Linked DNA regions of Homo sapiens: region 2 is linked to region 1. Evidence: fine-mapped expression QTL. A gene starts in region 1. The other region holds a variant in brackets. All regions are shown on one strand. Distances are between the middles of the regions. Region 1 holds the start of UBXN6 (UBX domain protein 6). Region 2 holds the start of SH3GL1 (SH3 domain containing GRB2 like 1, endophilin A2).

Region 1 (16,024 bases):
CCATACAGGAATGTACTTTGTGAGAAAGGTGGGATTTCACAGCTGTAAGCAAAAGACAGGTGCTCTCGACAGGTGGGGCTGAGAAGAAAGCTGAGCCAAGATCTAAAAAAAAAATTACATCAGCTCCATCCCACCATGTTACATAATAACATGCTCCAGCTGGATCAAAGCTTCAACCATGGAAACAAGCAAGCAGTCAAGGAGAAGCCAGAAGAAAAGCTCTGGAGGCCGGGCACGGTGGCTCATGCCTGGAATCCCAGCACTTTGGGAGGCCGAGGCGGTCGGATCACGAGATTAGGAGAGCGAGACCATCCCGGCCAACATGGTGAAACCTCATCTCTAAAATACAAAAGTTAGCCCGGGTGTGGTGGCGTGCACCTGTAGTCCCAGCTACTTGGGAGGCTGAGGCAGGTGAATTGCTTGAACCCGGGAAGCAGAGGTTGCAGTGAGCTGAGATTGCACCACTGCACTCCAGCCTGGTGACAGCAAGACTCTGTCTCAAAAAAAAAAAAAAAAAAAGCACTGGAGAGGCCACAAAAGAATTCTCTCAGCATGGAAATGGGGAAGGCATTTCTAAGAATGACCCCAAACCCAAAAGCCATGAACTAAAACTGACACATTTAATTATACAGAGATCAAAAAATCCTACACAGCAAAGTGACCATAAGCAGAGCCAACATAGAAGCAACTAGAGGGAAACATGTGCAACTCATATCATAGGCAAAAGCCTAAATTGCCTAATATGTAAAGAGTGCTGCCGGGCACGGTGGCTCCCGCCTGTAATCCCAGCACTTTGGGAGGCCGAGGCGGGCGGATCACGAGGTCAGGAGATCGAGACCATCCTGGCTAACATGGTGAAACCCCGTCTCTACTAAAAATACAAAGAATCAGCTGGGCGTGGTGGCGGTTCGCCTGTGGTCCCAGCTACTCGGGAGGCTGAGGCAGGAGAATGGTGTGAACCTCGTAGGCGGAGCTTGCAGTGAGCAGAGATGGCGCCACTGCACTCCAGCCTGGGCGACAGAGCGAGACTCTGTCTCAAAAAAAAAAAAAAAAAAAAAAAAAAAAGAGTGCCTACAAATCACTAATAAAAAGACAAACTATCTACTAAATAATGTAGAAAGGACGCATTCTCATATGAAACATGGCCAATCCAAAATAAGGAAAGTGCAAATTAACTCTATCCTGAGATGTTATTTTCACCTACCAACAGGCGTAAAGATCAAAGTTTGGTGATTTACAGTATGGTGAGAGGATGGGGACACGGGTGCTTTTGCACACACTGCTGGAGTGGGTGTGAGTCTGGAGAGTCTATGGAACTATTACTATTTTGTTTTGTTTTGTTTTTAAGATGAAGTTTCGCTCTTGTCACCCAGTGTCCACGCTGGAGCTCAATGGCGTGATCTGGGCTCACTGCAACCTCCACCTCCCAGGTTCAAGCGATTCTCCTGCCTCAGTCTCCTGAGTAGCTGGGATTACAGGCGCCTGTCACCACGCCTGGCTAATTTTTGTATATTTAGTAGATAGGGGGTTTCACTATGTTGACCAGGCTGGTCTTGGAACTTCTGACCTCAGGTGATCCACCTGCCTCAGCCTCCCAAAGCACTGGAATTACAGGCAAGAGCCACCGCGCCCAGCCACTTACTATTTTCTGAGAAAGGGTCTCACTTGTCACCCAGGCTGGTGTGCAGTGGCATGATTACAGCTCACTGCAGCCTCTACCTCCCAGGCTGAAGCAATCCTCCCACCTCAGCCTTCTGAGTAGCAGGGACTGCAGGTGCACGCCACCATGCCCAGCTATTTTTTTTTGTTTTTGGCAGAGACAGGGTTTTGCCATGTTGCCCAGGCTAAAGCCGAAGTTTCTGAGAACCTATTGATGGTGTTAAGTGAGGACTTGCTGTATTGGAAAAAAATGCTGTGGACGTTTTTATTTTTTGAGATGGAGTTTTGCTCTTGTTGCCCAGGTTGGAGTGCAATGGCGCTATCTCGGCTCACCACAACCTCTGCCTCCTGGATTCAAGCAATTCTCTTGCCTCAGCCTCCCGAGTAGCTGGGATTACAGGCATGTGCCACCATGCCTGGCTAATTTTGTAGGAAGTTCTTTCTGTATTGAAGCAAATAATACTTAACCTTTTATGAAAAACAACCAGGCCACGCGTGGTGGCTCACGTCTGTAATCCTAGCACTTTGGGAGGCTGAGGCGGGTTGATCACTTGAGGCAAAAGTTCGAGACCAGCCTGGCCAACATGGTGAAACCCCATCTCTACTAAAAATACAAAAATTAGCCAGGCATGGTGGCAGGTGCCTGTAATCCCAGCTACTTGAGAGGCTGAGGCACGAGAATCGTTTGAATCCAGGAGGCGGAGGTTGTAGTGAGCCGAGAATGCGCCACTGCACTCCAGCCTGGGTGTCAGAGTGAGACTCCATCTCAAAAAAAAAAAAAAAGACACCTAGTTGGGAGAGAGGAGATACAGATGCATACACAATGGTGTGCCTGGATTTGGGGTATCAGAGGAGGGGCTTCACTACTAGCAGTGGCCTCTGGGGACTCTGGGAGGGATCTGTACCACCTGGGCTTCCGATGGAGGGTGGCTCAGGCACAGGAAGCTACAGGTTGGGGCAGGAGCACACAGGGTGCCACTCACCAAGAGAATGGCCTCCTTGATGCAGGCGTCCCGCTGGTCCTTCCTCAGGGTGGCCCCAGTGAGCGGACAGGTGAAGTACACGCCAGGCACAGCCAGGTGGGCAGAGCCTTCCTCTCTGGGCTCAGATACCTGGGGCGGTGAAAGCGTCCAAGTCTGGACCGTGGACAGAGGCCACCCCGACCCTCGCCGAGCACCACAGTCCTGAGTGTGGCCCGTAGAACCAGACATCTCCAGCCCCCATGCTGTCCCTTCCACCTGGTGGCCGTGGGAGACACCCTGGCCAAGTGACCGGATCCCCGAGTCTTTTCCCTGGTATGTCAAATGTCCCTGTGGGGCCTGCTCAGAACTAAACGAGGTAAGGAACGGAAAGTACGGAGCAGCTTCTGACACGCAGGAAACACCCAGCAGATGGCAGCTGGGTTCCTGCTGGTCCTGTCCCCAAGCTGTTGAGGAAGGAGCTCTGTGTGGGTGTCTGCGGGCACAGTGCGCTGGACAAGGCATGACTTCTGGGCCTCCATTTCTAGGCCATCTCTAAGGTCCCTGCGTGCTAAAATTCACTGAATCCTCGAGGGTCAAGCTGCTTAGAACTCCTTTCAGCGGAGCTCTGAAGGCCCACCTCCTAGAGGAAGGCCTCCCTGATTCCACCCGTCTCCACAGAGCCTCTTGACCTCCAAGGCAGGCAGGACTGGGCAGTGCTAGGGGACAGGCTCTGAAACCACAGACTGGCTCTGGTCCTGCCTTTGCTGGTCCTGGGGTGTAGGAGAGAGGACAGCTGGTTTCACCTCTCTCAACCCCGGTTCTCTTTTTGAATAGTGGAAACTGTAACTGCATCTGCCCTTAAGGGGTTAAGGGGAGGGAGCGATGGGCTCGTGTACCTGAGGCCCACTTCTCCAGGCCTGAGCCGGCATCCTCAGCTGCCGAGCCCCGAAGGTCCCAGACAACACCGTGTTCCACCACAACCTGTGTCCACCTTGCAAGGCAAGGTTTTCCAACAGCCCTTGAGCCCCAAGGGCAGAGGCCACATCTCCCCCGTGACACAGTCAAGCTGTCCCCACCCCTTGGCATGGGACAGTGCCACCAGTGGCTGTTCTTACCACGTTGGTCCCTGGGGCCTCGGGGCTCCCGCTGACGGTGGCTTCGGCTTGAAGTTCCTTTCTCACTGGAAGGCAGCCCAAGAAAGAGAGGCAGAGACGGGATAGTGAGCACGCCGCTGTCCTGGCCCAAGCCCCCTCATTCCCGGGGTGGGCCTGGGGGCCACGCACACCGCCCCAGCCTGCTTCTGCTGGAGGTCAGGCTGGAGGTCCCCTGCAGGACTTGCTGTGCAGCCACCCCTCAGCCTGAGCAAGCACCCCACTGCCTGGGCAGCCCGTTTCTGCTCCAAGTCTCTGCTCCCACCCCCTCCCCAGGAAGCTGCCCTTCCCCCAGCACCTGCCCTTGATGAGCCGCTCCCAAGGGTGACCCTCACACCCCCACGGTTGCTCATGTGACTTCTGCATCCAGGGCCAGGCACCAGGGCCGAGAACCTCAAACAGCCCCAACCTGGGCCCGAGGAGGGCCATATCTCACCCTGGTTTCGGATGGTGTCCTGCGATGTGGGGCCCCAGGCCCGGGACTGCTTCTGCTCCAGCCGGGCTAGGGCGGCAGCGGCTGCCATCTGTGCCTCATTGGTGGGTCCCTGGCGGGGCGGCCTGGGGGCTGGCTGGTTGGGCTTCTCTTTGTGGGCCTTTTCCCTGGGAACAGACCGAGGGAGAGTGAGTGTATCCTCCCGAGGTGGCCGGCAAAGCTGACGTGCAGTCACACAGAGGAGCTTCTGCCCCTCCCCAGCACCATCAGCCAGACGTGTCCCTGCCTATGTGGGCCAGGACACCTGGTTCCCAGGGGCCACCTGCAGCCACCAGATGGTTCTACTGCAGGCGGAAGAGCCCCTGGAGGAAGGAGATGCTGGTTCCACTCAGCTCTGCACCATCGGGCAAGTCCTGCCCCCACTGGCCCTCAGCGTCCTCATCTGTAAAATGGGGTGACAGCACCCCTCCTGAGGTGAAGGCACCTTGACATCCTCAGTGCTTTTTTTCTTTTTGAGACAGGGTCTTGCTCTCTCACCAAGGCTGGAGTATAGTGGCACGATCATGGCTTACTGCAATCCTGAGCTCCCAGGCTCAAGGAATCCTCCCGCCTCAGCCTCCCAAGTCGCTGGGACTTAGAGGCAAGCATCATCATGCCTGGCTAATTTTTCTATCGAGACAGGGTCTCGCTATGTAGCTCAGGCTGGTCTCGAACTTTTGCCTCAAATGATCCTCCCACCGTGGCCTCCCAAACTGCTGGGATTATAGGCATGAGCCACAGCACCCAGCCCGCATCCTCAGGAATTGAGGAGACTCAAGGGGTGTCACATCCTCCCTCCCTCCCTGCCATAAGACTCTCCACCCTCAGGTCACAGCTTCGTTTGCTGAGCACCTACTGTGTGCCAGGACCCTGCTGGGAGCTGGTCGGCTCGCTTGGTTTACTCCTCCTAACAAGCTGCCAGGGAGGCCTCACCATCCCATTCCTAAACCCAAGAGGGACAGGAAGTCCGGGCGATGTGCCCCATGCCACGCCACCCTCGTGGCGGGACCCTGGGGAGAGCGGACAGCAGAACCAGCCTCGCCCTGGCCACTCCATGCCAGGCCTAGGGCTGTGCAAGTACGAAGAGCTCATGGACTCGTGGCTCCACCCTGTTGAGCCCTACACCAAGGAGAGTTCCGTAACCCACGTGGCACAGTGACCTGGCAGAGAAGCCTCGCAGAGAAGCCCTTTCTCCCAACCTGCTCGGACGCGTCTGTCTCACCCGTCTCCTCTCAGGCCCCTCCCATGAACTTACGGGCTGTGTCAATTTCTGTGCCGTAGGTCTATTAAAACCTTCTGGGAGGCCAGGCTCTCAGTTCAAGCCCTATACTCCTCTGGCTCTGCTTACATACCCGGGCAGCCCTCCCTCCTCGTCCCACCCCTGCCTATCTAGTCCTCCCACAGCTGAGCATCTTGGGTGGAAGAGGAGATGACTCATGAAGACCCACCCCGGCCTCATCCGATATCTGGGTCTTTCCAACAAAATGCCATTTCCCAGGGCACCTCACCCCAACCAGCCATGGACCCTGCCCCCCTGGGCAGCCACAGGGACCCTTCTGGAACCTCAGCCAGGGAGCGTCAGCATCACTCCACTGCACAACGCCCTCCCACTGCAAAATCCTAAAGCTTCCCTTGGCCAGAGAGCCCTTCCCAGCCTGGCCCACTGCCCTCCCGTGGCCTGTCTCCCCTGGGCTCCCCGCAGTTCTTCCCACACCCCAGCTGCTCCCCACTGCAGGCCCCTGCACTGTCTGCACCTTCTGCCCAGAATGTTCTCCGGGGGAGTGGGAGGAGGATGGGGGTCTGGAAAGGGCTAGAGCTGCCGCAGGGAGAGAAGGAGGGGCAGATTTCCCCACAGCTGAGTCTCACTGTGTCCTGGGAGAGGCCTTCCCAAACCACCTGACGGCCCCTGCTCACCCTCCTTGGAGGCCCTGGGCACTCATCCAAGCACTCATCGCCTGAGCGCTCATCCAAGGTCTGTTGGTTTATTTGTCCATCGGCTCCCTCTAGAAGGTGAGCCCTGGGACAGCAGAGGCCTTCTCCTGTCCACCACTGCAGCCTAAAACAGGACTTGGTGCCCACCCACCCCACACACCCTGGATATGCAGTCTCGCTCCACAAGGGACCTCCGCACCGCTTCCTTTCCCAACCTTCCCCTCCAACCTTCCCCTCTCCGCCCAGGCTCTGGGCTGATCCAGCCATCACCCCGATACCCTGCATCCTTCCTATCATGCCCAGTCCCAGTGGCCCCAGCACCCCCCACCCACTATTGGTTGAATCAATGAAGGGCTCCCCCGATTTGCCCCCTTCTCTCCCTGACCCCTCTCCCTCCCTCACTCAGCCTTTGCTCTCCTGCTCTCCCCCAGGAACCCTGACGTCCTCACTATGCCCCTACCTCCATCACCACCCCACTGCCCCGTGATTCCTGACCCCCACTTCCTGCCACCTCCCTGCCTCTCCCAGCCCCCACTCCCTCACAATCCCTTCCACTATTGCTTACAGACCCGTGTCCTGGCTGCCTGGCTGACTTCCTCAGTCCCTCTCCATCAGTCCCCACCACCCTCTGGCCAGCCAGCTCCCTGCAGCGGCCCCAGCTCTCCAGTTTCCCTTTTCTCAACCCAACAGCCCTCAGCCTTGCACCTTCCCTAGCTCCACTTCTTCCCCGGCCCTCCCAGCTGGCTCAGCCCTGCTCAGGCCCTTCTCTCCAAGTCCTCCCTAGACAATCCGGAAGCCTGCCCGGCATCTATCTCCTTTCCCCTCCTCTCCCACTTCCATAATCCACTTGGCACAGTGACGTGGCAGAGAAGCCTCGCAGAGAAGCTCTTTCTCCCAGCCTGCTAAGACGCGTCTGTCTCACCCGTCTTCTCCTCTCAGGCCCCTCCCGGGTAAGAGTCCATCTGTCAGAATCCCTCACCTCCACTCTCCTCACACACCTTCCTCAGCCCCTCCCTCTCAATTCGCCAGGACATCCCAGGTCACTGACGACGCTGCCCACCCCGGCCTCCCTGGCCTTCCAGACTCTTTCTAGTCTCCCATCAGCCTCCCACGTGCTCCAGATACCAAATCCAGAACCCCTCTTCCCATGGATACCTCAAAACAACTCTTCACCACCCCACCCCACAGCTGTGCGTCCTCCTCCAAGCTCAGCTCCCATCCATGGTCACCTAGATTGCCCCAAATCATCCCGGCCTCTTCGGCCAGCCGGGTCCCCAGACAGAGCTCTCCCTCACCACCCGGCTCAGGACTCATGATCCCGTTTTTCCCCAAAGGTCGTTCCACTGACCCCCAACTGCCTACAGCCCCGTCGCCCTAATCCCCCGCCACTGCATCGGACCCTCCTGCGGCCCCGCCCCCGAGACCTCCCCTCCCGCCCCGCCCCCTGCGCTAGTTCCCCTCCCCTCGCCTCCCCCGCCGCGCCCCCGGGTCATACCCGCCCCCTCCTGCCCCGCCCCCAGATCTCTCTCCCCTCCCCCTGACGCCCACCCTCGGCCCGACTTCGTCCGCCCCCGGCGCCTCTCCCCCTCCCCTGACCCTCGCGTGCCGCTCCCAGCCCCTCATCCTCTCCGATCTCCCGAGCCGCCCAAGGCCCCAGATCTCTCTCCCCGGCCGTCCCCGCCCCGCAGGGCCTCAAGCCCCTGCGTTCCTCACGCACCCCACGGACTCTTTGAGCTTCTGACCGGGTCCCGCGCTCTTGAACTTGATGTCGGCCTTGAACTCCTGAAAGAATTTCTTCATGGTGGCGGCTGGCCCGGCGGCGGGGGGCCGCGGGGGCGGGGGGGCACGGGGCCCAGTCGGGGACGGGGCCGCCGGAGACCAGCCACCGGAAGAAAATTAAAAAAAAAAAAAAAAAAAAAAAAAAAATTTACCTCGCCGCCGGAAGTCCCGCCTTCCCCTGGCCTGCCACGTGACAATCGACTAGACGTGCCTCTCTAGCGCTCGGTGCCTTGCTGGCCCAGGGCGGCCGCTCTGTACGCTGGAGCCGCGTCTCTGTGGTTCTTCCGGACTCCGTTGCCAGGGCGACGAGTGCACCTCTCGATTGGAGACAGGGCATTCCGTGGCGCTCCCCAAACGGTGACAAACGGTGATAGGACAGGGACAGGCCAACTGAACCTCGCAGAGAAAGCACTGGGCCCTATCCCTTTCGCTGCTCAACCTAAACTAGGCGCGGTGGCTCACGCCTGCAATCACAGCACTTTGGAGGCTCAAGCGGAAGGATTGCTTGATCCCAGAAGTTGGAGACCAGCCTGGCAACATGGCAAAACCTCGTCTCTATAAAAAAAAAAAAAATAAAATAAAATAAATTAGCCGAGGGTGGTGGCGCGCGCCTCTCAGCTACTTGGGAGGCAGAGGCGGGAGGATCGCTTGAACCCAAGAGGTCGAGGCTGCAGTGAGCTGTGATCAAGCCACTGCATTCCAGCCTGGGCGACAGAGAGAGACCCTGTCTCAAGCAAAACAAAAAAAATTCCAACCTTCTCTGTCTCCCCAGAGCTTACGTGATAAAATCCCAATTCAATGTTGGGTATTGGAGGCCCCCACGATCTGGCCTGTTTTGGTGCCTGAAGCACCCCCCCGCCACCATCACCACGTACCCTAGGTAGGAGCTGTTTAAGAGGATGCACCTGGGCCGGGCGCGGTGGCTCATGCCTGTAATCCCAGCACTTTGGGAGGCCGAAGCGGGCGGATCACAAGGTCAGGAGATCGAGACCATCCTGGCTAACACGGTGATACCCCGTCTCTACTAAAAATACAAAAAATTAGCCGGGCATGGTGGCAGGCGTCTGTACTCACAGCTACTCGGGAGGCTGAGGCAGGAGAATGGCGTGAACCCGCGAGGCGGAGCTTGCAGTGAGCCGAGATCTCACCACTGCACTCCAGCCTGGGCGACAGAGCGAGACTCCGTCTCAAAAAAAAAAAAAAAAAAAAAAAAAGAGGATGCACCCAATGCACCCAATTGGGACCTGGGGATTGGGGATCCACTTTGGTGGACACCAGTTAATAGTGGCGTACTTTGGTCTGTGCAATCCACAAAGAAGATACACAAAGTGACAGTTAAAACAAGCCTCAAAAAATGGGAGTTGGGGGTCAGACGTGGTGGCTCATGCCTCTAATCCCAGCACTTTGGGAGGCCGAGGCCGGCGGATCACTTGAGGTCAGGAGTTTGAGACCAGCCTGGCCAACATGGTGAAAGCCTGTCTCTATGGGCACCGGTAATCCCAGCTACTCGGGAGGCTGAGGCAGGAGAATCGCTTGAACCCGGCAGGTGGAGGTTGCAGTGAGCCGAGATCTCGCCATTGCACTTCAGCCTGGGCAACAGAGGGAGACTCTGCCTCAAAAAAGAAGGAGTTGGAATGAGATACACAGAGACTGATGGAGGAGAAGCCTCCAGGTGAGGAAACAGCCCACCCCAAGACTGAAATTGAAATATCATGGGTTGGACGGGTGGCTCAGGCCTGCAGTCCCAACATTTTGGGAGGCCAAGGTGGGAGGATTGCTTTAGCCCAGGAATTGGAGGCTGCAGTAAGCTAGGATCACGCCACTGCACTCCAGCCTGGGCAACAGAGCCAGACCCTGTCTTATTAAAAAAAGAAAAAAAGGCCAGGCACGGTGGCTCATGCCTGTAATCCCAGCCCTTTGGAAGGCCGAGGCGGGTGGATCACGAGGTCAGGAGATTGAGACCATCCCGGCTAATACGGTGAAACCCTGTCTTTACTGAAAATAATTTTTAAAAAAATTAGCCAGCCTTGGTGGCGGGCGCCTGTAGTCCCAGCTACTTGGGAGGCTGAGGCAGGAGAATGGCGTGAACCCAGGAGGCAGAGCTTACAGTGAGCCGAGATCATGCCACTGTGCTCCAGCCTGGGCAACAGAGCAAGACTCCGTTTCAAAAAAAAAAAAAAAAGGAAAAGAATTGGGCCAGGTGCGGTGGCTCACACCTGTAATCCCAGCACTTTGGGAGGTCAAGGCGGGTGGATCACTTAAGGTCAGAAGTTCAAGACCGACCTGGCCAACATAGCAAAACCCCGTCTCTATTAAAAATACAAAAATCAGCCGGGTGTGGTGGTGTGTGCCAGTAATCCCAGCTACTTGAGAAGCTGAGGCAGCAGAATCACTTGAACGCAGGAGACAGAGGTTGCAGTGAGCTGAGATTGCACCACTGCACTCCAGCCTGGGCGACAGAGCGAGACTCTGTCTCAAAAATAAATAAATAAAGTAAAAAAATAAATAAATAAAAGAAGAATACAGTGCAACCCAAACTTCAATCTTTCTGATCTCCAGTCTCCTATCTATGAAATGGGGATAAGAATAACACTCTCTATAGATTGTAGGGGTGATCATGTGATTAGAAAGTTCTCAGTATGCCGGGCACGGTGGCTCATGCCTGTAATCCCAGCTACTCAGGAGGCTAAGGCAGGAGAATCACCTGAACTTGGGAAGCAGAGGTTGCAGTGAGCCGAGACTGCGCCACTGCAATCCAGCTTGGCAACAGAGCAAGACTCCGTCTCAAAAAGAAAAGAAAAGAAAATTACAGCTCATTGTTGTGAATAAGGAATTGTATACCCTATAACTCAAATAAAGGTACAACACTGGGCCAAAGTCACACAGCTGGAAAGTGGCAGAGACCCATCCCACTTCTCCAAGAATAAAATCCTATGGGGTTCCTCAGCCTGGTCTAAGGAGATCCTAACATTAATAGGCCCTAATAAATTTCTATTTCAGGTTCTAAGTATTCTGAGGGTTTCAGAAACCCCGTTTCTTGTTATCACCCACCTTTCCACCTCTGCCTCAGTTACCTGGAAGTATTTCCAGCTCACCTCTGGGCCTTTGCCTAGGCATTCTCCTTTACCAGAAGGGACTTCTCTTCCTCTGCCTAACTCAATCCTCTTCCACCATGACGCTCTCCTGGACTATCTTCCTCATGTCGGATGAGGTTATGAGATTAAATAATTTAACATTTCTGCCAGGAGCGGTCGGTGGCTCACACCAGTAATTCCAGCACTTTGGGAGGACAACATTTATTTTTCTTTTCTTTTCTTTTCTTTTTTTTTTTTTTGAGATGGAGTCTCGCTCTGTTGCCCAGGCTGCAGTGCAGTGGCACAATCTTGGCTCACTGCAAGCTCCACCTCCCAGGTTCACACCATTCTCCTGCCTCAGCCTCCCGACTAGCTGGGACTACAGGCGCCCGCCACCACACCCGGCTAATTTTTTGTATTTTTAGTAGAGACGGGGTTTCACCGTGTTAGCCAAGATGGTCTCGATCTCCTGACCCCGTGATCCGCCCGCCTCGGCCTCCCAAAGTGCTGGGATTACAGGCATGAGCCACCATGCCCAGCTTTCTTTTTTTTTTTAGACAGGGTCTTACTCTCTTCCCCACGCTGGAGTGCAGTGGCACAATCATGGCTCACTGCAGCCTAGAACTTCTGAGCTCAAGCAGTCCTCCCCACTCAGCTTCCCAAGAAGCTGGGACTGCAGGCATGTGCCACCACACTCAGCTAATTTTTTTTTTTTTTTTTTTTTTGAGAAGGAATTTCGCTCTTGTTGCCCAGGCTGTAGTGCAATGGTGCGATCTCGGCTCACCACAACCTCCATCTCTCGGATTCTCCTGCCTCAGCCTCCCGAGTAGTTGAGATTACAGGCACCCGCCACCATGCCTGGCTACTTTTTTGTATTTTTAGTAGACACAGGGTTTCTCCATGTTGGTCAGGCTGGTCTTGAACTCCTGACCTCAGGTGATCCGCCTGTTTCAGCCTCCCAAAGTGCTGGGATTACAGGCGTGAGCCACTGCACCCGGCCTCCGGGTAATTTTTTAAAAATTGTTCAATCTTGCGCAGTGGCTCACGCCTGTAATCCCAGAACACTGGGGGGCCGAGGGAGGAGGATTGCTTGAGCCCTGATGTTCAAGACCAGGATGGGTAACATAGTGAGACCTTGTTTCTACTAAAAAATAAAAATAACAGGCCAGGCACAGTGGCTCACCCCTATAATCCCAGTACTTTGGGAGTCTGAGGTGGGTGGATCACAAGGTCAGGAGTTCAAGACCAGCCTGGCCAACATGATGAAACCTTGTCTCTGCTAAAAATAAAATACAAAAATTAGCTAGGGGTGGTGGCAGCACCTGTAATCCCAGCTACTCAGGAGGCTGAGGCAGAGAATCGCTTGAACCCGGGAGGCAGAGGTCACAGTGAGCCAAGATCATGCCACTGCACTCCAGCCTGGGCAACAGAGCAAGCCTCCATCTCAAAAAATAATAATAATAATAAATAAAATAAAAATAACACCCTGGGCAACATGGCGAACCCTTGTCTCTACCAAAAAAAAAAAAAAAAAAAATCAGTGCTGGTTGTGCCTCCCTGTAATCCCAGCTACTTGGGAGGCTGAGGCATGAGAATTGCTTGAACCTGGGAGGCAGAGGTTGCAGTGAGCTGAGATCATGCCACTGCATTCTGGTTTGTGAGACTCTGTCTCAAAAAACAAACAAACCAAAAATTAGTGAGGCATGGTGGTGCGCACCTGCAGCTTCAGCTGCTTGGGAGGCTGAGGCAGGAGGAGATCGAGACCATCCTGGCTAACATGGTGTAACCCCGTCTCTACTAAAAATACAAAAAATTAGCCAGGTGTGGTGGTGGGTGCCTGTAGTCCCAGCTACTTGGGAGGCTGAGGCAGGAGAATAGCGTGAACCTGGGAGGTGGCGCTTGCAGTGAGCTGAGATCGCGCCACTGCACTCCAGCTTGGGCGACAGAGCAAGACTCCGTCTCAAAACAAAAAACAAAAAACAAACAAACAAACAAAAAACCATTAAAAGATAAACTCGGCCGGGCGTGGTGGCTCACACCTGTAATCCCAGCACTTTGGGAGGCCAAGGTGGGCGGATCACGAGGTCAGGAGATTGAGACCATCCTGGCTAACATGGTGAAACCCCATCTCTACTAAAAATACAAAAAATTAGCCGGGCGTGGTGGTGGGCGCCTGTAGTCCCAGCTACTCGGGAGGCTGAGGCAGGAGAATGGCGTGAACCCGTGAGGCAGAGCTTGCAGTGAGCCGAGATCCTGCCACTGCACTCCAGCCTGGGTGACAGAGTGAGACTCTGTCTCAAAAAAAAAAAAAAAAAAGATAAACTCAAAGTAAACAAATAACTGTTTAAATTTTAAAAATGAAATATGTATTATACTGATGGGGTCTCGCTAGGTTGCCCAGGCTGGTATAGATCTCCTGGTCTCAAGTGATCCCCCTCAACCTCCCAAATCACCAGGATTAGTGGTGTTAACCACCTCGCCCAGCGTTTGATTGTAAAGCTGTTGGAACTTTAAATTATTCTTCTTATTATTATTTTTGAGACGGAGTTTTTGCTCTTGTCACCCAGGCTGGAGTGCAATGGTGTGATCTCAGCTCATTGCAACCTCTGCCTCCTGGGTTCAAGCGATTCCCCTGCCTCAGCCTCCTCAGTAGCTGGGATTACAGGCACACGCCACCACGCCCGGCTAATTTTTGTATTTTTAGTAGAGACAAGGTCTCACCATGTTGGCCAGGCTGGTCTTGAACTCCTGACCTCGTGATCCACCCACCTTGGTCTCCCAAAGTGCTGGGATTACAGGTGTGAGCCACCGTGCCTGGCCCAAAAATTTTTTATACAGATGTGGTCTTCCTATGTTGCCCATGCTGGAGCACAACTACAGTGGCCATTCACAGGCACAATCATGGGTCACTGCAGCCCAGAACTCCCAGGCTCAAGTGATCCTCCCACCTCAGCCTCCCAAGTAGCCGGGACTACAGGCATGAGTCACTGCACCTAGCTTAACCATTGCAACCTCCGCCTCCTGGGTTTAAGTGATTCTCTTGCCTCAGCCTCCCGAGTAGCTAGGATTACAGCCACCACGCCCAGCTAATATTTGCATTTTTAGCAGAGACAGGGTTTTACCATCTTGGCCAGGCTGGTCTAGAACTCCTGACCTCCTGATCCACCTGCCTTGGCCTCCCAAAGTGCTGGGATTGCAGGTGTGAGCCACCGCGCCCCGCAATTTTTTTTTTTTTTTTTTTTTTTTAGAAAGAGTCTTGCTCTGTCACCCAGGCTGGAGTGTAGTGGTGCAATCTCAGCTCACTGCATGCTCTACCTCCCGGGTTCACGCCATTCTCCTGCCTCAGCCTCCCGAGTAGCTGGGACTACAGATGTCCACCACCACGTCCGGCTAATTTTTTTTGTATTTTTAGTAGAGATGGGGTTTCACTATGTTAGCCAGGATGTTCTCGATCTCCCGACCTCGTGATCCGCCGGCCTCGGCCTCCCAAAGTGCTGGGATTACAGGTGTGAGCCACCGTGCCCAGCCATTAACCACTTTTACGTGTACAGTTCGGTGGCCTCAAGTACATTCGCATTGTTGTGCAACCATTACAGCAATCGTTACATTTCATCTAGTGAAACGTAAATTCTGCCTAATTAAGTAATAACTACCCCCAACCCTGATAACCTCTAGTCTACTTTTCGTCTCTATGAATTTGACAACCCTAGGGACCTCTTATGAGTGGATACATATAAGACAGTACTTGTCTTTTTACGTCTGGCTGATTTCACTGAGGATATCGTCTTAAGGTTGCAGCCTGTGTAACAAATAGTTTTTAAACGATACTGCAGGCCGGGCACGGTGGTTCATGCCTGTAATCCCAGCAATTTGGGAGGCCGAGGCTGGTGGATCACTTGAGGCCAGCAATTCGAGACCAGGCTGGCCAAGATGATGAAACCCCGACTCTACCAAAAATACAAAAATTTGCCAGGTGTGGTGGCACGTGCCTGTAATCCCAGCTACTCGGGAGGCTGAGGCAGGAGAAACCCTTGAACCCAGGAGGTTGAGATTGCAGTGAGCCAAGATTGTGTCACAGCACTCCAGCCTGGGTGACAGAGACTCCGTCTCAAAAAAAAAAAAAAAGGAAAAAAAAGATATTGCACCAGCCTTGGCAACATGGTGAAATCCCATCTCTACAAAAAAAAAAAAAAAAAAAAATTAGCCTGCCATAGTGGCACACACCTTTAGTCCCAGCCACTTGGGGGACTGAGGCAGGAAGATTCCTTGAGCTCAGGAGGTCAAGCCTGTAGTGAGCCAAGATTACACCACTGCACTCCAGTCTGGGTGACATAGTGAGACTGTTTCTCAAAAAAAAAAAAAAAAAAAAAAAAAAATTGCATGGGGCCGGGCAAGGTGGTTCATACCTGTAATCCCAGCACTTTGAGAGGTCGAGGCAGGAGGGCTGCCTGAGCTCAGGAGTTTGAGACCAGTCTGGGTAACAAAGTGGGATCCCATCTTTATAAGAAATTAAAAATTAACCAGGTGTGCTGGCACATATCTGTAGTCCAAGCTACTCAGGAGGCTGAGGCAGGGGGATCACTTGAGCCCGAAGTGTAGAGGCTGTAGTGAGCTGAGATCATGTCACTGCACTCCAGCCTGGTCAGGACAGCAAGATCCTATCTCAAAAAAAAAAAAATTCTTGGCCAGGCGCGGTGGCTCACGCCTGTAATCCAGCACTTTGGGAGGCCGAGGCAGGTGGATCATGAGGTCAGGAGATTGAGACCATCCAGAGAGGCCAACAGGGTGAAACCCCATCTCTACTAAAACACAAAAAATTAGCTGTGCTTGGTGGCGCACACTGTAGTCCCACCTACTCGGGAGGCTGAAGCACGGGAATCGCTTGAACCCAGGAGTGGAGGTTGCAATGAGCCAAAATCGCGCCACTGCACTCCAGCCTGGTAACAGAGCAAGACTCTGTCTCAAAAAAATAAATAAGCTGGGTGTGGTGGCTCA
Region 2 (16,024 bases), 55 kb before region 1:
AGAATTCTTCCTTTGCAGCGGGGGGAAGCTGTCCTATGCATTGTAGGATGCTTGGCAACCATCCCTGGCCCCTATCCCCTCGATGCCATGAGCATTCTCTCCCAAAGTTGCGATAACAACTGTCTCCGACATTGCCAAGCCAAGGAAGGGGTCTGCGCCATCCCCGGCTGACAGCGCTGATGGGCGCGTGCCCCTCCTTCAGGAGCCCCGATGCCTGTGGCTCTCAACTATTAAATCAAGTTCCAGCAAAGAACTGGAAACCTTTAAGCTGTGTATGGAACCATTGTGTGTAGCACTGGAAACTGTCCCTTTTCTAAGTCACTGTAAATGGTGTTTTTTTTTGGAGACAGGGTCTGGCTCTGTCTCCCAGGCTGGAGTGCAGTGCTACAATCAGGGCTCCCTGCAGCCCTGACCTCCTCAGGTGCAAGCGATAAAGGTTCCTCGTGATCAGCTGGAAGGTACTTTTGAATTAAAGGTTCACACTGAAGAACCTAAGTGGATAGTGGCATTTGAGGCCAGCAGTGAAAGTGTTTCCTCTCAAAGAGTTCCCTACACAGCAGCAGACATGGTTATTCTGAGAGTCATGTATGTTCTGTGTTTCTCTGTGAACCATGTTTCAGTCTTTGTTTCTGTCATCATATGTACGGGAAATTCCATAGAGACTACATCACACAAAACTGACATTGTCAATTACCAGGAAATACAGGTGCTCACCTTTTGAAGGCTTATTCATACATATGGTTGCCACAATACGTATATATGATAAACAGTGTATGTATACATACAAGTTGTTTAGGCCAGGCACGGTGGCTCACACCTGTAATCCCAGCACTTTGGGAGGCTGAGGCGGGCAGATCATGAGGTCAGGAGTTCAACACCAGCCTGACCAACATGGTGAAACCCTGTCTCTACTAAAAATACAAAAAAAATTAGCCGGGTGTGGTGGCGCACCTGTAATCCCAGCTACTCAGGAGGCTGAGGCAAGAGAATCGCTTGAACCCGGGAGGCGGAGGTTGGTCTCAGTAAGCCAAGATTGCGCCACTGCACTCCAGCCTGGGTGACAGAGCAAGACTCTGTCTCAAAATATATATATATATATACAGTTGTCACAATATGTATATGATAAACGGTGTACATATACACATAAAATGTTTATGGTGGATCTAGCTCCCCCCTAAAAAAGAAGCCCAGATACTGAAAGACACTCGAATTTTCCTAAAGACTTGAGGGTGGGCTCGACCTTAGGGTCTGGATGCTGAGTTTTATGTAAATATCTACCTGTGGGGCGGGGTGCCATGGCTCATGCCTGTAATCTCAGCACTTTGGGAGACTGAGGCAGGTAGATCACCCGAGGTCAAGAGTTCGAGACCAGCCTGGCCAACATGGTGAAACCCCGTCTCTACTAAAAATACAAAAAAATTAGCGGGGCATGGTGGTGGGTGCCTGTAATCGCAGCTACTCGGGAGGCTGAGGCAGGAGAATTGCTTGAACAGAGGAGGCGGAGGTTGCAGTGAGCCGAGATCGTGCCATTGTACTCCAGCCTGGGCAACAAGAGAGAAGCTCCGTCTCAAAAACAAACAAACAAACAAAAACAAACTACACATGTGGCTATCTGTGTTTAGCAAACTAGGAAAATCTTTGTTTTATTTTATATTTTACTTTTTTTTTTTTTGAGACGAAGTCTCGCTCTCATCCACCAGGCTGGAGTGCTTCCCAAACTGCTGGGATTAAAGGCGTGAGCCACCACACCTGGCCAAACTAGGAAAATCGTAAGAATGGCTCAGTGGGGATTTTTTTGTTCCTTTGTTTTGGTATAATTATCCTCATTTTTTTTCCAAATCTTCAAGCAGGGTTTCTCAAATTTTGGTACTATTGACATTTGGGGCCAGGTAATTCTTGGGGGCAGTGGGGAGATGCTGCCCTGGGCACCGGAGGATGTCCAGCAATATCGTCTACCTACTAGTAGCCAGCAGCACCGCACCAAGCTGTGACAACCAAAAAGGTCCCAGACATTGTCAATGTCCCCTGGAGGACAGAACTGGCCCTGTTTTACAGGAAGATAAATGTCCCCTAATCCTTTTGTGTAAAAGGGGGAATGTTTTTTACCCTTAGACCGGATAAGCAAGACCAGCTGAGACCTACTGGTATAAAGCATACTGCCTGCTCACATGGTGAGAACTCAATAAATGTTTGTATCACTACGTAATGAGAGATCCCGAGAGATGTCACTTTCCAACAGGCACAGCAGAGGGTGAAAGAGTTGTTATTAGACTAAAAACAAAAAAAGAGACACAAATAGTCGGATACGTCCAGATAACAGCTGAGATGTCAGAGGGAACCATGGCAATGATCACAGAAGAGCATGGAACGCAGCCAGGGTGACTTCTAAGAGCACGACTCAGGACAGAATTGACCAGGAGGCCAAGACGACAGCCCCGAGGGTGGGCTGTGGCCATTGTGCTTTGGGACTAGGCCTCGGGATGTGGAAATAGGCAATCCTAAGCCCAGCTAACACCACACTGTCCTTTCCAGGCTTCAAGGCGCCATTCACAGATCTGAACGCAGGTCATCCTGCTTCCCTTGAGAGAGACAAAGTCCTGGTGGCCGGCACAAGAGGCCTGGTTCATTCCTCTAAAGAGGGTGTCAGCTCAGGACAATATGGGCACAGGCCCTGATCGCTGGGAGTGGGGGTGGTGGCTTCCAGAGACCTGTCTATAGCAGGGAACAAAGTGGCCCAGGAATTCCTCCAAGACCTCTGAGGACATCTTTCCTGCTAGGGAGCAGTACTCTATGGTGCTCTAACCAAGCAGGTGAAGGTCTGACGCCTGCTGGGCAAGGTCTAACCCAGGGCCAGGCCATCTGATTTCAAAGTGCTGGGGCAAGGGGGTGGGACTGTTCTCAGTGACAACTCTAAAATTCGTCTGGATTAAATCTTTCTCCAGGGTTTAACCATCATCTGGGGTGTAGAGATAGACCCTAAGTATCTATATCCCTAAACAACCACTAGGGTTGTTACTTTTTTTATTTATTTTTTGAGACAGGGTCTCACTTTGCTGCCCAGGCTGAAGTGCAGTGGCACGATCATAGTTCACTGCAGCCTTGAACTGCTGGGCTCAAGTGGTCCTCCTGCCTCAGCCTCCCAAGTAGCTGGGACTGCAGGTGCACATCACCACACCTGGCTAACTTTTTCATATTTTGTAGAGATGGGATCTCCCTATATCGCCCAGGCTGGTCTTGAACTCCTGAACTCAAGGGAACCCCTGCCTCAGCCTTCAAAGTGCTGGGATTACAGGCATGAGCCACAGCACCTGGCAGGGTCCTTACTTTTTTCTTTCCAGGGGCAAAGGTACCTGCTGGGTGTTACTGGGGACTCGTTTCTCTTTGCTCCCACTGGGCATCTCCGAACTGTGGGCAGAGAACCCTGTTTGCCACCTTGGCCCAAGCATTTGCTAAGATCATTGCTCATTCCTCGGTGGACTCTATCTACACAAATTCCACACAACCTCACCCTGCAGTACACGGACCAATAGGATTCAACAATCTGAGGCTTCTTGTCTTTTTTTTTTTTTCAAGACGGAGTCTCGCTCTGTCACCCAGGCTGGAGTGCAGTGGTGCAATCTCGGCTCACTGCAACCTCTGCCTGCCGGATTCAAGAGATTCTCCTGTCTCACCCTCCTTAGTAGCTGGGGTTACAGGCAAAAATACAAAATTTTTGTATTGTTAGTAGAGATGGGGTTTTGCCATGTTGCCCAGGCTGCTCTCAAACTCCTGGCTTCAAGTGATCCGCCCGCCTCGGCCTCCCAAACTGCTGGGATTCCAGGCATGAGCCACCGCGCCCGGCCAAATTTGAGGCTTCTTGCATTCGAAATTGCAAAGTGAAAATTTTAAATGTGCCCAGTTTTCTGGAGAGTGGATCCACAGCTTTCACCAGATTCATGAGCAGTGGGCCCTGGAGTTTCCAAAAAAAACCCTTTATCTGTCCATATCAAATGCACTTAGGCTGGGATGCAGCATTCTACTTCTGGGAATTCATCCTATAAAACTAATCCCACTGGTGAGCAAAGATATTCACTGGCTATTTATTGTAGTAATGGTAACAGAAAATTCCGGTAAACAATAGAGATATCTATCAACTGACAACTGGTTAAATAAATTATGGTATATGTCATGGAATGAAATACAATGTACCCATTAAAAAGAGCCAAGTAGGCCAGGCAGGTGGCTTACGTCGATAATCCCAGCATGTTGGGAAGCCGAAGCAGGCGGATTACTTGAGGCCAGGAGTTCGAGACCACCCTGGGGCACATGGAGAAACCCTGTCTCTGCTAAAATTACAAAAAGTAGCCGGGCGTGGTGGCGCATGCCTGTAGTCCCAGCTACTGGGGAGGCTGAGGCAGGAGAATTGCTTGAACACAGGAGGCGGAGCTTGCAGTGAGCCGAGATTGCACCACTGCCCTCCAGCTGGGGCGACAGAGCATGACTCCCTCTCAAAAAAAAAAAAAAAAAAAAAAATCCAAGAAGTGTGGAGTATGGTCTAGAGCAGTAGTCCTGGGGGACAGGAAAGGAAGGGAGGAAGGAAAGAAGAGAAGGGAGGGAGGGAGAGAGGCAAGGAGGGAGGGAGGAAGGAAGGAAAGAAGGAAGGAAGGAACGAAGGGAGGGAAGGAGGACTGATTCTAAGGGGACACACGGTGATGTCTCAAGATATTTTTGGTTGTCACGACTTGGGGGTGCTCCTGGCCCGGAGTGGGTGGAGGCCAGGGGCGCTGCTCAGCACCCCGCAGTGCCCAGGACGGCCCCACCACGGAGAACAATCCAGCCCCAGATGTCAACAGTGCCGACGGAGGGGGAGAAATCCCGCTCCAGTGTGATCTCCAAGCAATGAAAAACACAGCACACAGGATTCTGTGGCATATGCTATCACAGGGTACGTGTTTTTAAAGGAAAGGCACACACGTATCTTAGGAAAGGGACATACGGAGTCGATGACAGTCGCTTGTCTCTGGGGAGAAGGGCTGGCTGCCCGAGGAGCAGAGAGGGGAAACTGACTTCTTCCTCTACCTTTTCAACTTTGTACCTTGCCCATCCAGAGGATTTTGAACGTAACTGCTCTAGACGCAACTTTTCCCTGGCTCTGGGTTATCTGGCAAGAGTCCTGTGTCGACAGCCTCGGGACTCCTCTCTTCCCCTTCTCTCCCCGCACCCCGCCTTTGCAGCGGAGAGAAGGAGGGGAGAGGTCCGCGTCCCTGGGCAGCCCAGGGTGCCTCTCCCCTCCTCCCAGGGGCTCTGTCCCCGCTTCTGGAGCCCGCATGGCGGGCAGGGCCTGGGCCACCTCGTCGCCCCCGTCCGTCCCTTGGTCTTCCCACCTGGCAGGGGACACGCGCCAACGTCCCCACCTCGGTCCCCCCGGCCCCCTCCCGGGCCAGGTCGGGCCTGGCTCCCTCATCCGGGCAGCCCGGGGCCCGGTACTCGGCTCCCGCCTGGGCCTGCGCTCACCTGGCTCGCCTTGTAGAACTGCTTCTTCAGCCCCGCCACCGACATGCTGCCGCCCGCCGCCGAGCCTCCCGCCCGGACCGCGCCAGCGACAGGCTCCCGGGCGCCGCCGACCCTCTGCGCGCCTCAGCAGTCCCCGTCGGCGCCGCCTCCGCCACCCGCTTGCCAGCTCCGCGCCCGCCCCGGCGCCGCCTCAGCCGCTCGCGCGCCCGCGCGGCCAGGATATTACATGGCAACCGCACGCTTCCGGTGCCGGCCCCCGCGCGCGCCCCCGGCCCCCGCGCGCGCCCCCGGCCCCGTCTGCGCACGCGCGCCCTCTGCCGGCTGAAGAGCGCACGTGCACATTGTCTACCGCGGGAGAGGCCGCCTCTGTCAGTGAGTTGAGCGGGGCGAGCCTAGAGGGGCCGTAGCAGTTGCAGCGCCCCCTGGAGTCGTGGAGGTGACCCTAACGTCTTGGAAAACGCGCTTAGTTTAAACCTGGCCAGGGAGGTTGGGAAGTAGAAGGGGCCCCTGCTTACGATTCTTCAGATTCCTGTTTACTCATCTTAGCTAAATCCAGTTCGTCTAAGTGTTCAGCCCCCTCCCATTTTTATTTATTTATTTATTTTTTTTTTGAGACGGAGTCTTGCTTTGTCTCCCAGGCTGGAGTGCAGTGGCGTGATCTCGGCTCACTGCAACCTCCGCCTCCCGGGTTCAAGCGATTCTCCTGCCTCAGCCTCCCAAGTAGCTGAGATTACAGGCGCGCACCACCATGCTAGGCTAATTTTTGTATTTTTAGTAGAGACAGTGTTTCGCCATGTTGGCCAGGCTGGTCTCGAACTCCTGACCTCAGGTGATCCAACCCCCAACCCCCCCACCAAATCCAGCCTCCCAAAGTACTGGTCTCACAGGTATGAGCCACCGTGCCCGGCCACCTCTCTTCCTCTCTCTCTCTGTCCTGTGTTCATCCATTCAGTTGCCCACGTGACACATCTAGACATCTAGGTCTGTCTTCATGCCTTGACCATACTTTCCACCAGTCCTCCCCTCCAATTCTTCCTTGTCATGGCAGCCAGAAAGATGCTTCTAGAATGCAATTCAGGGCCAGGGGCGGTGGCTCACGCCTGTAATCCCAGCACTTTGGGAGGCCTAGGTGGGCGGATCACGAGGTCAGGAGATTGAGACCATCCTGGCTAACACGGTGAAACCCTGTCTCTACTAAAAAATAGAAAAAATTAGCCGGACGTGGTGGCGGGCGCCTGTGGTCCCAGCTACTAGGGACTCCGTCTCAAGAAAAAAGAAAGAAAGAAAGGAAGGAAGGAAGGAAGGAAGGAAGGAAGGAAGGAAGAAAGAAAGAAAGAAAACCTGTTTCTACACTCACAGGCTGACACTGAAGTTCTCTGTTTTGTGTGAGGCTTTTAATCTGCTTGATCTACACAGTTCAATCAAATATTTATACATTCACTCAAACATTTATTGACCTGGTAAATATGATCAGTTACTAACAGGTCCTGGGGTTCCAGTGAGGAATGAGTCCTACCCTCGCCAGAACTAATGACAAAAGGCAGAAATTAATTCATTAGTCAAATAACAAACTAATAAATAGACACAGCTGTAATTGCTTTAAGGAAAAGAACAGTGTTGTAGGCACTTGATATTGTCAGGGTTGGGGAAGAAAAGGCTTCCTGGGGTGACGATCTAAGATCTGAAAAGTATAAATTAGCCAGGAAAAGAGCTGCGAAAAGATTGTTCTAGGCAGAGAAAACAGCATGTGCCAATTTCCTGAGGATTAAACCAGAAACGATCCATTTCGTCCATTTCGTTCACTCATTCTACATGTTATTTACTGAATGTCAAATACTTCCGAAGCGCTCCCCAGACTTCGTTTTATTGTTCTTGTAGAAAGCAATTTATAATTTTAATTGCTGTTGCTATATTTAGCCGATGTCCCATTAGGATAAACTCAAAACTCCAGGTTCCTCATCTAAATCCCACTTTCAAGTTGTCATCTGCGCCTTGCGTAAAATGTTCTGGTGACGTAAGAGCCTGGGCCTCCCTCCTCTTAGGGACTATCCCACGCGATCAGCCAGTCGCAGCGCAGAGCAATGAGCTTGACACCTCCTTCCTCCAATCGCAGGGCAGCTCCTCCCAGCCAATGACAGGCCTCCGAGGGGAAGCCCAGTCCCTCGCGGATATGTCAATGGGCGAGCCCTGGGAGGAATGGAAGTCACGGATCTCGCGAGGATGCCCCCGGCGCCCCTCAATTCCCGAGGCGGGCCGTCACGTGACCCGGGCTCGCCCAATTGGCGCGCGGACTGCGGGGGTCGCCGCGGTTCCCGCCAAATACGAGCGCGGCGGCCGCGGCGGCAGCAGCGGCGCGGGCGGGAGGGCGAAGAGCAGCGGCCGCCTGAGGGGAGCCCGCGCCTCCGCCGCCTGAGAGGAGGTCGAGCTGCCGCCGGGGCGATGCTGGAGGAGCTGGAGTGCGGGGCGCCCGGCGCCAGGGGAGCCGCCACAGGTCGGTTCGGGCCCGCGCCGAGGGGAAGGGGGGGCGCGGCGCGCGGCCTGGACGGGCCGAGGCGGCGATGGGAGGCGGACGGGCCTCCGGGCGCCAAGCCTGGTCCTGCGGGCCGGGCGTTCACCCCCTGGGGCCTTCTCATCCCCAGCGAGGGCCTGGCGTCCCCAAGGGCACCCTTGTTGACGTTATTGTTGTAGCCGCGACC[A/G]TATTGTTTGTTTCCGGCGCTTTTGCGTCAGTTCGTCCCTCCAGGACTCTCTGGGGCGGTGGGTCGGAGGGGCCGAGAGGGGAAACTGAGGCCCAGGGAAGCGAAAGGGCTTGCCCTGCAGGTTACTGGATGCGTTTGTGTCCCTTGACCATGTTGGACCTTGCAGCGGGTGGGGAAACTGAGGCCCAAGGTCGCACGGGCTCGGGGACCAGTACCGATGCCGCTGAGGGTCGGGGTAAGCCCGGGTAAGAAGAGGCCCAGATGGTAGAGATGGCCAGGAGGGTGGGACTCCCGAGTTCTTGCTCCTTCCTGATATGCACCGTGACTTCCTCCTCCGTGTGCCTTGGAATGGGGTCTTTGGAGCCCACCACAGGCCTCCTGAAACGTGGGAGGGTGAACCAAGGAAGACCAGACTGTCCCTCTCCCTTGCTGGACTCTGCATTACATAACGCTTTGGCAGCACTTGGCATTACGCTTTGGCACATAGTAGGTGCTCAGTAAATAACGTGAACGAATGAAGGGCTAGAATGGACGCCAGTCCAGTTTCTCAGCCTCAGCAGTGTTGATATTTGTTGCCGTCCTGGGCACGGCACTGCAGGGTGTTAAGCATCATCCCTGGCCTCCGCCTTTTGCAGGCCAGTAGCAGCCCCTCTCACCATGCCTTAGTAACAGCCAGAAATACCATTGCCCTGTGTCCCCTATGGGGCAGATTCCGCCTTGGCTGAAAATCATGGCTGTAGTTCCTTCTAGCCTGTGGGATTTCCCGGAGACATAAAATTAATATAAAGTTGGTACTGTCGTGGAGCTGTGATGTTTTAAGTCAGGATGTTTAACTTTATTTATTTATTTATTTTGAGACTGAGTCTTGCTCTGTTGCCCAACCTCTGCCTCTCTGGTTCAAGCGATTCTTCTGCCTCAGCCTCCCAAGTAGCTGGGATTACAGGCCTGCACCACCATGCCTGGCTAATTTTTGTATTTTTTAGTAGAGACGGGGTTTCACCATGTTGGGCAGGCTGGTCTCGAACTTCTGACCTCAGGTAATCCACCTGCATTGGCCTCCCAAAATGCTGGGATTACAGGCATGAGCCACCATGCCTGGCCAGGATATTTAACTTTAAAAAAAAAAATCGCTACTCGCTAGGACCATGCTATCATGAAAGGAAAGTATATTTTAGTGCCAAATAAAATTAGAAAGGATGTAATCGCAGAATAAAGAGCAGTTAGTAACTTTATACACACATATGTGTTAATCGTGTGTATCTTTGGATCTCTGGATTGGGAGTGTCCCGTTTTATATACAAGATTTTTTAATGAGGGTGGGTCCTGTTTTTAATGAGGTTGTTTCTGTTCCACTTGCACCAAAGCTAGTGACTCAAAGCCACACAAATAGATTTTTGTGATTGTCTCGAAAATAAAGTTAAGTGACTAAAAATCATATCCTTCAGTTAGGGGGTAGAAATCCATGGCTTTTGGTAAGTGGACACTTGAGAATGATACTGTCTTTATTTCTTTGAAGTGGCTAGAAAGGAAACATGAATTTTCTCAGTACCTTTTCTTATTCACTAAGCTTGGGGCGGTGGGTGAGGGGTGGTTTCATGTATGGACGATGGAGTTTTTTAGGAAGCCCCAGTCTGCTTTTAAAAAGTACTCACTTTTATGTAATGCTTACAAAACATACGTAGATTAACCAAAATAACTAAACTAGGTTTTGCCAAGCCAGATCTCCTGGTAAGTGTGAGCTTCCTAAACTTACTCTGTTTAAGGTATTTATCTAAAGACTCGCTTCTATTTATGATCACTGCTGCATCTGCTTTGATATTATTAGATGGTTTCTTGAGATTTTTTTTGCAGGAAAATATTTTGTCTTATCTTCTCTTGACAGCACTTCAGCTCCTGCCTGGCAAGCTCAAAGTGCTTTAAATTGTGGTACCTTCATGAATTCTCTTTAAAAAGAAAAGGATCCCTTTTCTGATTTTACAGATTTGGTGGTGGTATGGGGGCTTGGGTTGGAGGAAGATGTTTGGGGATCATGGGAATGAAATAGGTAATCTGATGTTTTCTCTCCTCCCTACTTTTACTCATTCCACTTTCATTTCATGAAACAGTTCCGGTTACTCTCTTAGTTGGCTTTCTGATTTATTCCAGACCCTAACCAGGTACCATAGGTGCAGCATGGAACAAGTCTTTCTGCTGTCATAGAGTTGGCATTTTGTTTCCAGAGAGACGTAATAAACACGAAAGTTTCAGATTAAATGCCACAAAGAAAATAAAACAAGACATGACAGTGTCTAGGGTAGGATTTCTCAACCTATTAACATTTTGAGGCCAAGCGCCGTGGCCAGCACTTTGGGAGGCTGAGGCGGGTGGATCACGAGGTCAGGAGTTCGAGACCATTCTGGCTAACATGGTGAAACCCCGTCTCTGCTAAAAATACAAAAATTAGCCGAGAGTGGTGGCATGCGCCTGTAGTCCCAGCTACTTGAGAGAGTGAGGCAGGAGAATCGCTTGAACCCAGGAGGCGGAGGTTGCAGTGAGCTGAGACTGTGCCATTGCACTCCAGCCTGGGCGACAGAGTGAGACTCTGTCTCCAAAAAAAAAAAAAAAATTTTTTTTTTTTGGCCCATATAATTCTTCATTGTGGTGTGCTGTGCATTGCATTGTGGGACATTTAGCAGAATCCCTGGCCTCTACCCACTGGATGTGAATAGCATCCCTTTGAGCCCTCCCTGCATCATGACAACCAAAAACATCTCTAGACTGTGTCAAATGGCCCCCGAGGACAGAGGGGTCAGAATTGCCTCCACCTTGTACATAATTGGCTCTACATATGTATTTGCTAACTTGATTATTTGCAGAATTTAACAGTTTACCCTTTGACACTTTTATTTGCAGCCATGGATTGCAAAGATAGACCAGCTTTTCCAGTTAAGAAGTTAATACAAGGTAATTATTTGGAAATGGGTTAAAGAGTTGTTCGTAGTTTATAGTCTTCCTTGTCTCTTGTTGGAGACCTCAGTGGAAGCCTGGAGCTAGAGGGGAGAGAAACAGTCCTTCTTCAGACCAGGAAGCTGGGAAAATGCTTTTCACACAGTAATGTCTCGTGGGGTTCCCACAAGTAAACCCCGAGGCCTCCACTTATGCACGATTGGTGTTTTGTAACTTGCAGCTGGGAGCTCTCCTGTATGTTGTAGGGAGCGTAGCAGCATCCCTGGCCTCTTCCCACCGGATGCCAGTAAGTGCATCCTCCAAGTCGTAACAACCAAAAATATCTCTATACGTGGCTGATGTCCCCTGGGAGGTAGAACTGCCCCCTCAGAGAACCACTGTTGTCCTGGAAGATAAATGCTCCCAAATCCTTCTGCATAAAACGGGGAGTGTGTTCACCCTTGGGCCAGATGAGCGGTTGGATTGTAATTTTTTTTTTTTTTTTTTTGAGACGGAGTCTCATTCTGTTGCCCAGGCTGGAGTGCAGTGGTGCGATCTCTGCTCACTGCAACCTCCGCCTCCTGGGTTCAAGCAATTCTCCTCCTTCAGCCTCCCAAGTAGCTGGGATTACAGGCGCGTGCCACCACACCCAGCTAATTTTTCTATTTTTAGTAGAGATGGGGTTTTACCATGTTGGCCGGGATGGTCTCGATCTCCTGACCTTGTGATCCCCCTGCCTCAGCCTTTCAAAGTGCTGGGATTACAGGTGTGAGCCACCGCACCCGGCCCAGATTGTATTTTTAGAAACTACAGTTTTGGGTTTTTCAAACTTGGGCTGGGTGCAGTGTTGCATACCTGTAAAACCAGCTATTTGAGAGGCTGGGGTGGGAGGAGTGCTTGAGTCCAGGAGTTCAAGGCTGCGGTGAATTATAATGACACCACTGCTCTTCAGCCTGGATGACAGAGGAAGACTCTGTCTCTTGAAAAAAAGGGGGACGCCAGATGCTAGGCTCACACCTGTAATCCTAGCACTTTGGGAAGCTAAGGTGGGCGGATTGTCTGAGCTCAGGAGTTTGAAACCAGCCTGGCCAACATGGTGAAACCCCGTCTCTACTAAAATACAAAATAGCTGGGCATGGTAGGGGGCACCTGTAGTCCCAGCTACTCAGGAGGCCGAGGCAAGAGAATTGTTTGAACCCGGAAGGAAGAGGTTGCAGTGAGCCAAGGGTGCGCCACTGCACTCCAGCCTGGTGACAGAGCAAGACTCTGTCTCAAAACAAACAACTCCCCCCACACCCCCCCCAAAAAAAAACAGGTTTTTATTTGGTCTATTACATGATGAAATAGTTAATAAAAGATGCAATGGCATTGAAGTAAGTGAACATAGGTTCTTTGGGAAATTCACTCTCCAAAGTGTTTCTGTGTTCCTCCTAACCAGCCCGAAGCCTGGCAGACTCTGGGAGAACAGTTTGATTGATGAGAAAAGCCTAACAGAGCCTAGGGTGCTGAGGCCAGGAGAAAAAAAAAAAACCCTGTCCACAAATGTGTCTATATTTTCTACTTGAGAACCAGATGCAGTTATTATCAAATGAGATTTTCACCCATTAAAAATAAATTTGGAATATGAACTGCATCTGAAATAAACAAATGTCTCTTGAAATTCTGGCGATGGCTCTGCTAAAAGGCTTGTCAGGATTTTGTTTTTTAAGTTAGGATGTTGAAGCGGGGCATGGTGACTCACATCTGTAGTCCCAGCACCTTGGGAGGTGGAGGCGGGCAGATCACCTGAGGTCAGGAGTTTGAGACCAGCCTGGCCAACATGGCGAAACCCTGTCTCTACTAAAAATACAAAAATTAGCTGGGTGTAGTAGTGCATGCCTGTAATCCCAGCTACTTGAGAAGCTGAGGCAGGAGAATAGCTTGAACCCAGGAGGTGGAGGTTGCAGTGAGCTGAGGTGGCGCCATTGCACTCCAACATGGGTGACGAGCAAGACTGTCTCCAAAAGAAAAAAAAATAAGTAAAATTAGGATGTTAGAAAAGGATAGAATGAAAAGATAGCACCCCCCACCCCCTCTTTTTTTTTGAGACGAGGTCCCTTTTGCCCAGGCTGCAGAGTAGTTGCACCACCACAGCTCACTGCAGCCTCTACCTCCTGGGCTCAAGCGATCCTCCTGCCTCAGCCTCCCGAAGTGCTGGGATTATAGATGTAAGTCAGTGTACCTGGCTTCAGATAGCCCCTGCCCCGTCTTTTTTTTTTTTTTTTCTTTTGAGAGTTTCGCTCAGGTCGCCCAGGCTGGAGTGCAGTGGCGTGATCTCAGCTCACTGCAGGCTCCGCCCCCCGGGTTCACACCATTCTCCTGCCTCAGTCTCCCGAGTAGCTGGGAATGCAGGCGCCCGCCACCTCACCCGGCTAATTTTTTGTACTTTTAGTAGAGACGGGGTTTCACCGTGTTAGCCAGGATGGTCTCGATCTCCTGACCTTGTGATCCGCCTGCCTTGGCCTCCCGCACCCGGCCTTTTTTTTTTTTTTTTTTTTTTTTTTTTTTGAGAGGGAGTCTGTCTCTGTCGCCCAGGCTACAGTGCAGTGTTGGGATCTCAGCTCACTTCAACCTCTGCCTCCCAGGTTCAAGCGATTCTCCTACCTCAGCCTCCTCAGTAACTGGTATTACAGGCGTGTGCCACCATGGCCTGGCTAATTTTTGTAGTTTTAGAAAAGACGGGGTTTCACCATTTTGGTCTGGCTGGTCTCAAACTCCTGACCTTGTGATCTGCTTGCCTCGGCCTCCCCAAAGTGCTGGGATTACAGGCATGAGCCACCACACCCGGCCCAGATAGTCCCTTTTTAAACTTTAAAATTATCTCCCACCCCCATGTCCCAACAAATCAGTAATTTTCAAGCTCATGAGTGGTTGTAACTTTAAACGTTCACTAGAGATGGCTTTCTGTCTTTGTTTCAGCCCGTCTGCCGTTTAAGCGCCTGAATCTTGTCCCAAAGGGGAAAGCCGATGACATGTCAGACGATCAGGGTACTTCTGTGCAAAGTAAAAGCCCCGATTTAGAGGCCTCTTTGGACACCTTGGAAAACAACTGTCATGTGGGTTCTGACATAGACTTTAGACCGAAACTTGTCAACGGGAAGGGTCCCTTAGATAACTTTTTAAGAAATAGAATCGAAACCAGTATTGGCCAGAGCACAGTCATCATTGATTTGACAGAGGACTCGAATGAGCAGCCAGACAGTCTTGTGGACCACAATAAACTAAATTCTGAAGCCTCTCCCTCCAGGGAGGCAATAAATGGCCAGCGAGAAGACACTGGGGATCAGCAGGGGTTGTTGAAGGCCATTCAGAACGACAAGTTGGCATTTCCTGGAGAGACCCTTTCAGACATTCCTTGCAAAACAGAGGAGGAGGGTGTTGGCTGTGGAGGTGCAGGGAGGAGAGGCGACTCCCAGGAATGTTCGCCACGGAGCTGCCCGGAGCTGACGAGTGGCCCGAGAATGTGCCCCAGAAAGGAGCAGGACAGTTGGAGTGAAGCTGGGGGCATCCTGTTCAAAGGGAAGGTGCCTATGGTGGTCTTGCAGGACATCTTGGCTGTGAGACCACCGCAAATCAAGTCCCTTCCAGCCACACCCCAAGGCAAGAACATGACCCCTGAGAGTGAGGTGCTGGAATCTTTCCCCGAAGAAGACTCTGTACTCAGCCATTCGTCCCTGAGCTCTCCCTCTTCCACCAGCTCGCCCGAGGGGCCGCCTGCTCCCCCAAAGCAGCACAGCAGTACCAGTCCCTTCCCCACCTCCACGCCCCTCCGCAGAGTGAGTATCTCCCATGGAGTCCCTGCACATCAGTGCTCACGGATCTCAGAGCGCTGTCAGTCTCCACTGGGTCACCCAGGTGTTTTGTGGCAGAGTGAGCGGGGCCACGGGCTGGGTCCTGGGACTCGACGTGGAGTTCTTCCTGGTATCAAAACTCACAGTGTTCAGTTCTGCATTCGTTGTGATGCCCCTGGGACTTAATTCATCAACAGTGTACCTGGTGTACTGTGTGAATAACACCCTGCTGTTTTGCCTTCGTTGTTCACATCTAATCAGTGATAGCTTAGCCGTTTTAGGGAATTAGGATCTGAGCTGGTGCTGTAACCCCTCACTTCAGATTCGAGGTCCAGCTTTCTCTGTGCCCTTCCTGTCTAAGCATAGAAATGTAGGGACGGGGCTGCAAAGACACTGAGCACTGAAGTGGCAGTGAGACGGCAGGAAGCATGACTTGGGGAATTCTGTAGGGTCAGCACAGCCAGCCATCTTAAAAACCTTACCTGGGGCCAGGCACAGTGGCTCATGCCTGTCATCCCAGCACTTTGAGAGGCCGAGGTGGGAGGATCGCTTGAAGATCACTTCAAAACCAACCTGGGCAACATAGACACCATCTCTATGAAAAAAAATTACTTTTTTTTTTTTTTTTGACAGAGTCACTCTATCACCCAGGCTGGAGTTCAGTGGCGTGATCTCGGCTCACTGCAACCTCCACCTCCCAGGTTCAAGCGATTCTCCTGCCTCAGCATCCCTGATAGCTGGGATTACAGGTGCGCACCACCACACTTGGCTAATTTTTATATTTTTAGTAGAGACAGGGTTTCACTATCTTGGCCAGGCTGGTCTTGAATTTCTGACCTCAAGTAATCTGCCCGTCTTGGCCTCCCAAAGTGCTGGAATTATAGGCATGAGCCACTGCACCCAGCCCTGCAAAAAAATTTTTAAAAGTTATCCAGGCATGGTGGCACATGCCTGTAGTCCCAGCCACCTGGGAAACTGAGGCAGGAGGATCACTTGAGCTGAGGAGTTGGAGGCCGCAGCGAGCTATGATCACACTGCCGCGCTCCAGCCTGGGTGACAGAGCGAGACCCCATCTGGAAC

The links.
Region 2: its variant is fine-mapped to the expression of UBXN6 in prefrontal cortex (ROSMAP, PIP 0.95).

The regions. Positions count from the first base shown.
Region 1 is chr19:4,449,722-4,465,745 of GRCh38, forward strand. UBXN6 (UBX domain protein 6) reads right to left here and starts at 8,073. Exons shown (of 11, transcript NM_025241.3): 1 at 7,894-8,073; 2 at 4,209-4,372; 3 at 3,737-3,801; 4 at 2,643-2,771. The coding sequence starts at 7,976. It also overlaps a transcript of CHAF1A not described here. RefSeq lists enhancers at 3,609-4,308, 8,135-8,334 and silencers at 7,875-7,944, 7,975-8,024.
Region 2 is chr19:4,394,831-4,410,854 of GRCh38, forward strand. It overlaps SH3GL1 (SH3 domain containing GRB2 like 1, endophilin A2), which reads right to left and starts at 5,717. Exons shown (of 10, transcript NM_003025.4): 1 at 5,494-5,717. The coding sequence starts at 5,538. CHAF1A (chromatin assembly factor 1 subunit A) reads left to right here and starts at 7,810. Exons shown (of 15, transcript NM_005483.3): 1 at 7,810-7,984; 2 at 11,082-11,132; 3 at 14,073-14,929. The coding sequence starts at 7,933. RefSeq lists enhancers at 164-674, 5,078-5,907, 7,570-8,267, 8,268-8,963, 13,678-14,489 and 1 more and silencers at 5,196-5,245, 5,306-5,815, 7,778-8,057. The variant A/G (reference allele first, on the strand shown) is at 8,190.